Linked DNA regions of Homo sapiens. The protein of the gene in region 2 interacts with the protein of the main gene of each other region in a biochemical or structural test. Each region holds a gene or a part of one and is shown on either strand. Other genes may lie near its edges.

Evidence for each region.
Region 1: of the proteins of PTPRZ1 (region 2) and ALK, one has a biochemical effect on the other in vitro, tested with the Homo sapiens proteins (one study listed by IntAct).

Annotation. Positions count from the first base shown.
Region 1 is NC_000002.12:29,914,745-29,918,669, forward strand, and holds part of ALK (ALK tyrosine kinase receptor isoform 1 precursor), read right to left. Parts: intron 1-3,925. UniProt on the Homo sapiens protein: Neuronal receptor tyrosine kinase that is essentially and transiently expressed in specific regions of the central and peripheral nervous systems and plays an important role in the genesis and differentiation of the nervous system.
Region 2 is NC_000007.14:121,876,048-121,879,972, reverse strand, and holds part of PTPRZ1 (receptor-type tyrosine-protein phosphatase zeta isoform 1 precursor), read right to left. Parts: intron 1-3,925. UniProt on the Homo sapiens protein: Protein tyrosine phosphatase that negatively regulates oligodendrocyte precursor proliferation in the embryonic spinal cord. Required for normal differentiation of the precursor cells into mature, fully myelinating oligodendrocytes.

The DNA.
Region 1 (3,925 bases), on a different chromosome or scaffold from region 2:
CTTCTAGCAAGGATACTGGAAATTTTTTCACCTATTGACATGTCTTGCTCTTTGTAATCTGCACTTGGAGATGATTCCCTTAGTGGAAAGAACTCTGACTTGAAGGAAAGGGGAACTGTGGTTCTAGTCAGTATGAAAGTTTCCAGGTGTATACCATTTTGTGCTATATGACCTGGAAAAATATGGTCTGGATTCCAGTTACTTCATTTACAAAATAAAGCAAACATTTGTCCTGCCTACCATAGGATTAATAAGTAATAATAAATGTGAACATGCTTTATAAATTGTAAAGTTCCAAATAACCATAACAGGACACTAATAATGATTATAAAGAAAGGCAAAATTTCCTTTACAGGTCAGACTGGAAAAATTTCCATGTTGTGAGGTTGCCAGGCAGTGATCCTGAGTGGCAGGGCACTGAGACTTCTGCTGATCAACTCTCATTCTTTTCTTCTCCCACCTTCAGGCCAGTTCCTCCTGATTTTCAGCAGACCAACTTCCTTATAGATATTCCTTTCTCACTCTGTTGCCCAGGCTGAAGTGAGGTGGCACAATCTCAGCTCACTGAAACCTCCAACTCCCAGGTTCAAGCAACTCTCCTGAGTAGCTGGAACTAAGGCGCATGCCACAATGCCTGGCTAATTTTTTTATTTTTAGTAGAGACAGGGTTTCACCATGTTGGCCAGGCTGATCTCGAACTCCTGACCTCAAGTGATCTGCCCTCCTCGGCCTCCCAAAATGCTGGGATTACAGGCATGAGCCACTGCGGCCAGCCTAGATACCCATTTTTATTAATAATCACACTCTCCTCCCATGCCTTACACAAAAACCCCTCATGGACCTTCTTTCTCTTTTAAAAATTTTTGAAATGTTAAATTGGATGTGGATGAACTTCATCTTTCAAATGGCAATATAGATTCTCAACATTTAAAGGGATTTTTAAGTAGCCAGTAGGAGTCCACCAAATCTAGAACTGATGGCATCTTCTCAAGACACAGGTCACCTTTTGCCCTGCTCAGTGATGCTTTGTCATATACCCTCACCCATAGATGTATCTTAGATACACAATTCTCTGGTGATTGTGCCTCCCAAACCCCTGGATATACAGATCGCACCCCAGAGAAATAATCTATGTTTAATTGGAGGGCAGGGAAGAATAAATTCAGTAATTTCAAAATATTTGTCATTAACAATTTCTTAAGTGCTTCTCACCAACTTCAAAGATGTATATGCAATTCTTTTCTTTTCCTCTAAAAACACCAATGCCCAAAGGCTCCAGGGTTTGGATCATAAAAAGGTTCTGATTCCTTCTGCCATTCTGCATCCCAGCTCTCTGTCCTGTTGTAGCTTCTCAATATGTGAAAATATAGAACTGATTAATTAGGAATGCTGGGACTTGTCTGACCCACATCTCACCTGACTCCCCACTCCATTGGAATTCCATTCCATAGTCAGAGGAATATCAATGTCAGAAAACAAGGTTTCCCTGATATCCAACCCGAAGTTTGCTTCTACAAGTATGATCCAATTACTTCCATGGGCCACGCTAAATAACTCCTCTCCTTCACTGCCACTCTCTCTCTTCAGAGATTTGTAGATTGTTACCATGGCTTTCCCTTCATCGCCATTTAGCCCAGCCATATATATTTAATTCTTTTCATCTTTCATTGTAAATCAGTCCCTTCAACTGTTAAATCAGCTCTCTGCTCTTCTCTGGACTAGTTCCAATTCTCCCAATTCACCTCCAATAACTGATATCCCTTCTGGGAGCTCCAATTTCCTCTCCATCCTCCTTTGCTCTCTCTGCCCACTCCAGAAATGAAATGGGAAGGGACTGACAGATATGGGAGTTCAAAGGTCAGATATATTGCATTGCATACATCTCTAAATTGCTCAGGCCTCTCCATAGTACATGTAAAATCCAAAGTCATGTATCCACTTTCCTGGGTGGGGAGGGAGTGCTTACAGGGAAATAGGCCTCCTATCCCATGAGTCATCATCCCCTAGCCCTCTGCCTGGGTGACAGCAGAAACAGATCTCAAAACACCTGTAAGCCAGGATACAAACTGGAGCTGTGGGCAACATGCCAGCCTTGCAGACAGACATCTTTTCTATGATTTGGGCTGTCCTGGGAGAGGCCAGAACCATTAATACAGTCCCAGAAACTGCCTCTTCACCTCTTCTCCATGAATGGGTGAATTTGGGATCTGCCTCAGACTTGAAATGCCGATCCTATTTCTGAATTCACAGTAACCCACAAGGAAAAACCATTAGCATTTCATGCATTATAAGGCCTCTCAGACATCTTTCTGTCCTCTCAGACAGCCCAAATCACAAGCAATGCAACGGTTTTGCTTTCTCCTAACTGGTGCTTTTTCATTTTTACTATTTTAGTCATGGTCCTGCTCAGGTTTAGGAAGCTATCTTTGGTCTGAGCCAAATGGGCTGCTCCAGGCCCCTCACCACAAAACATGGAAGAACAATCAGCTCTTCCCTCCCCCACAAATAGCCCCATCAGCATCATTGTGTACCTCCAGACAAGACACTTGGGCAGACACAGGAAGAAAATAAGCTGAGCTGTGCCTACTTTCCTTCTGTATAATTGAAGAGCCCACATCATAGAAGAGTTAAATGCCTTTTCTATAAATCAGAGCCTATATAAAAATAATAAACCCATTTCTCCAAACATGATAAATAGCAAAATCAATCCCAGTGTCAGAACCTAACCTTGAATTTTCATAGGGAAAATGAACGGAACCATAATGATACATGTTGTCTGAAACACAGAACATGGTATAGCAAGGTGTATCTACTCCATGGGGATGTCTGCAATGGAGACTGTATCTGAATGAGGCTGGGGAGGCAATGATAATGTGAGAGAGGCTAGTCCTGCATGGCCAGCTGCCTAACTGCAGACAGCATATGTCCTCAGAGAAAGGAGAGACCAGGCTGTTCCAAGTATGATCACCACAAGGCCCGAAGTGCTTTTCAATAGGCTGGCTGTCTCTCTGGAGGTCATGGGGAGCTCATCCAGTTACACTTAGTGTCTTATTTGATCCTATCAATAATCATTTGATTCCAATCCTGCTGAAAAATGCTTGGCCAAATTTTCTTGCCTTTTAATGGCAGAATCCTGGCTCCTACTGAAATCAGCATTGCTAGATGTGTCAAATGATGCATAAGGGCTTGGTCCAGCTGCCAAATGTACTGGGCCACTGAGGGAGGGCTTGGGATGCCCACAATGCTTCCCTACAGCCAATAGCAGAGAAGCCCTTGGAGCACAGCCTTTCTACATAAACCTCCCCACTCAGCAGCTCCAACACCTTATTTAAGACTTGAGTGGAGTATATTCTTTAAATGAATTAAGCATGTGACTCTTCAGAGACACCCACTGATAGCTTCATGCAACCTACCTGTTTACAGTTGGCAGGTTCGGGGCTGTAGAAATGAGCCCTTTTGCCTGTCACCAACATCTGACAACAGCTGATACAGACTGCTGGATTCTATGGTCATTTGATAAAAGGTGATGGGGAAGCTCCACAGATGCTCAGAGGCATGAAACTAGAAGATAATCTGCATTTCCAGAGAAGTCATTTTTATATCCATTACTAAAACACTGGGCACTAAAACAGAATGTTGCATGTATAAACCACACAAACCACAATGACATTAAAGCCCAGCTGTTCTTTACAAAAACATCTTGGGTGGAACAACAGTATCAGTCTTCCATCTCAGTTCACTGAAGGCACTATCAAACTCATCAGTGCCTCTTAGGATGGTCTATATAAATTCCAGCACTAAATGAAAAGGGCTCACTTTAGGTGCCAGTGTCACTAACACTAATGTTGAAATGTGCATCCGCACTCTGTTTTTCTTGGGGGTCACATACTAGTATGTATTCTGTGCAATGACTAGGGAACCTCAG
Region 2 (3,925 bases):
GGTGCTGAGCAAACTTAAGTTTATTTAATTATCTTAAACTCATGCTAAAAGAAAGTGAAGCTGAAGAGGAAATAGCAACAAAAAAAGAAAAAGAAAAGAAGGAAGGATTAAAGGAATGAAGGATAAAAGGAGGAAGGGAGGGAAGAAGGGAGGAAAGGGGAAGGAAGGAAAAATAGAAGGAAGGAGGGAAAGAAAAAAGGAAGGGAGGAAGGTAGTTGAGAAGAAAATAAAGCAAATATCCTAACAAAAGATCATCTCCTTTTTTTCTGCTTTTGACTCCTATGAAGATTTTTAACTGATCCCATGTCCCATTCCATTTGAATTCAACTCAGTTCAAATATTTGCTATGTGCAGAGTTAAACTTGTGTAGCACATCCTCTCTAGGATTAATGATAAAACTATTGACAAACTCCAAAAGCACGTACATCCACATGATAAAACTGCACTTCCCATCATTTGCCTGGTTTTCAAAACTGTTTTGTGTCACTATCTCTTACGGCCTTCTTGACTAGAGAAGACTTAAACCAATATGATAGCTTTTGGCTGACTGAAAATACAGTGTTCATGGGCTCAAGATACTTTATTTACTCATTACTGACCATCCTGCATCCCTCATTGCCCTCTCCTCCCCAACACCAGAGCAGCACAGGCGCATGCACTTGTACACATACAAAGTGGCACACTAGCTGACTTGATGTTCTGGCCCCCTGGGATGTATCCAAAACTCATTGGTGCCAACTCCTCTAGAATTAAAAGCTCACTCAAGACTGCTTCTGTAAGTACACACTCAGTATCAATCACAGGAACTTTATTTTCCATGCACAGATAGTGTCTGGATCTATGTAATGCTTGTACAGGCATTAATCACATTCATGACAGCTCCAACCTCATAGAGGATGCCTATATGCTTACGTGTATTTCTGGGAGAATCAGTGAAAGTGAAGTTCGCGTACCAGAAGTGACATTAAAGATGGACAGGTCAAGGTGAATGCTGACCTTACTCCCGGACTGAGATCATAATCAAAAGAGGGAAAGACCAGTGAAAATTGGCCAGTCTCAACAACAAACAACTATTTTTTTTTCTAAGAAGCTTCATGGTACAATCTTTCTATAACCTTATACATTAAAGATTTATTGGCACCTACTGTAAGTGCTAAGTTCAAGAATGCAATGTTGACTGAATTTTTCATTGAATTCTTCAATGAATGAATTTAACAATGAATGAATGATGAATGTAAGAATGGATTCTTTACCCTCAAATAATGTGGTCGAGTCAAGGAGACAGATAAATTGAAAAACAATACAGTGGATAACAGAACAAATTATGGAAAATGTACTATGGGAGCAGAGCACTCACTCCCGAACCAGCAGTTAATCTCTTCTGTTCAACCTCAGTCCATAAAGGCTACAAAGTGGCCACTGAACTCTTTTCACCTATTACTGCTCTACCAAAGGCCCCATCATGTTTCTAGGATGTTTGCAGGCTAACACAACACAAACCATAACTAACTCACATGCACGAACACTTCAAACAATTTCAATGACTTTAGAAATTTTTCTAGTTGAGTTGATGACTCCTCATGAGTTCTATCAATCATTATTTTACCAGCGTTTTTTGTTGTTGTTCCAAAACAACACTGCCAGATGGAGATGTTCCATGTCTGCACTGTCCCATGTGATTGCCACTAGCCACACAGATTACTGAGCACTTGAAATGTGGATGGTGTGATTAGGGAACTGAATTGTTTTATTTTAATAAATTTTAAATTACATAGCTACATCTGCCTAGTGGCTATGGTATTAAACAGGACATTTCTAAAATACAAGTGTTTTAAGATTGTGCTATATGATATTTTTTCTTTCTTTAATTTCTTTAATTTCTTTAAACACAGAGAAAAATTGGTTTCCTTTTGTAATCTGAAGTTACTTCTAGGAATTAATCTCAATAAGACACTAAAAGTTGAAATACAATTTAAATGTATATATTTTATATATATATACACAAACACATATATATATATACACTTTTATGTATATGCATATATATACATTTATATATGTATATACACACATATCTCTCTCTTGTTTAAATTGGCTCTGACTTTTACCATTGGAATTCTTAATGGAGCAGGAAGCATTTTAAAGTATTTGAGAGTTAACATATTCAACACATTAAGAGATATTTGGAAAAGACTTATTTTCGACTAGTTGTGAACAGAAAAAGTATCTTTAAAACAAGATTTAAAGAAAGTTTTCATTGTGGGATTGAATCAGATTAACTGGGTTGTGAGCATCATGAGTTTAAGTCTCTGTATGTTGATGCATAGCTGAATTATCAGCGCCTAGCATGGTGCCTTGCAGATGTCGGGCACTTAGTGAACATCTAGTGAATGAGTAGTTAAAGTAGCATGGCTGGAACGATTCTGTATCTGGATCACAGTGATTGCTACATGACCATATGCATCGGTGAAAACTTTCAAGATGGTAAAAATGTAAATTATGCCTTAATTTTCAAAAAAGGATAAAAAAGTAATACAAGAGTACATGGGCAAAATCATGAAAGGGATCCTCAGAAAAGCAAATGGGACTGTGAAATGTACCATCACATCACATGAAAGCAAGCTAGTGAATGCCAAACAGCAAATTGATCCTGGGAATGAAAAGAGGAAAAGCCTCAGGCTCTGGATTGGGAAGGAATACACAGGCTGAATCAGGATTTGTGATGTTAGGCAACTTATCTGAGTTCTCTGTGCCGGGTTCCCTCATTTGTAAAAGGTGTAAGATGAAAACACCAATATCAAAGGGTTTTGAGGAGAATGAAATGAGAAAATGTACATAAAATGCTCAGTGCTGAAACTGCACCTAGTAGACACTTGAGCAGATGGTAACTGAAAATGAAACACAGGCTCATCTTCTTAATTATGCCTTCCTTTGAGATCTTCTGGTCCTGACTGAGGGGGTTCCATTTCCATGCAACAGTCTGAACGGTCAGCAAATGGGTGGTCAAGCAAATCTCTCACTTTAGACAGTACTCAAATCTTTTCGGAGTTAAAGGGAATGAGAAAACGCAGCTTATGCTTCCAGAAAAACCTGAATTTTTGCCAGAAGCAAAATTCCCACAACATAAAATTTTAAGCAAGATCTTGAATCTCTAGTGCAGACATGAGAGTAGAAATGAATTCATCAATGAAATGATTTCTCCTGGCAAACTTCCCTGACTGGAAGCAACCACAGTATACGTAAAAAGGAGAGAGAAATGAAATAAAGAAAATTGCAACTCTGCAATGAAAAGGAATTAATTTTCTGAATAGAGGCTAGTTATTATTTGGGAAAAAGGCATGAATATTTTTTATATGTGGTTACAATTTGTTTTCAGAGGATAAATAGATCAAACTGAGAGTCACAACATATTGAATTTCAGACTCTATAACCAGCATAAATTAAGAAGTTAATTCTTCCAGAGGAGTTGGGTATAATTTATTGTTAATGTGGCTCTTAAAGCAGTAAGATGTGACTGAGAAGTACAGAATCTGATTCATTACATATTTAATAATAATACTTAAACATTTGAACTTAGTGTACCTTGCAGCACTATAATTCACTTAATTCAAAGATCCTGAATTCCTTCATTAATTGGAAGAAATTATTCCTTAAAAGCTCTTAAAATATCTACCTCTCCTCTATGACTCATAGTTAAGCCTCCTTACAGGAAAGCCACTGTAGTTTTTCCCATAAGATACACCTGTTCAGTGGGTCAAGAAAAATTTGTTTTGGTTCATGTATTCTGATAAATTTTTTGTCTGGAAAGTTATTTGAAAGAAGCAGTTGGTCTATTATGTCCAGTTCAAAACATCAGGACATTTTAGATACAAAATGATCTGATCTGATCACTAAGACATTCTTAATTGCCAATAATCAATATCTT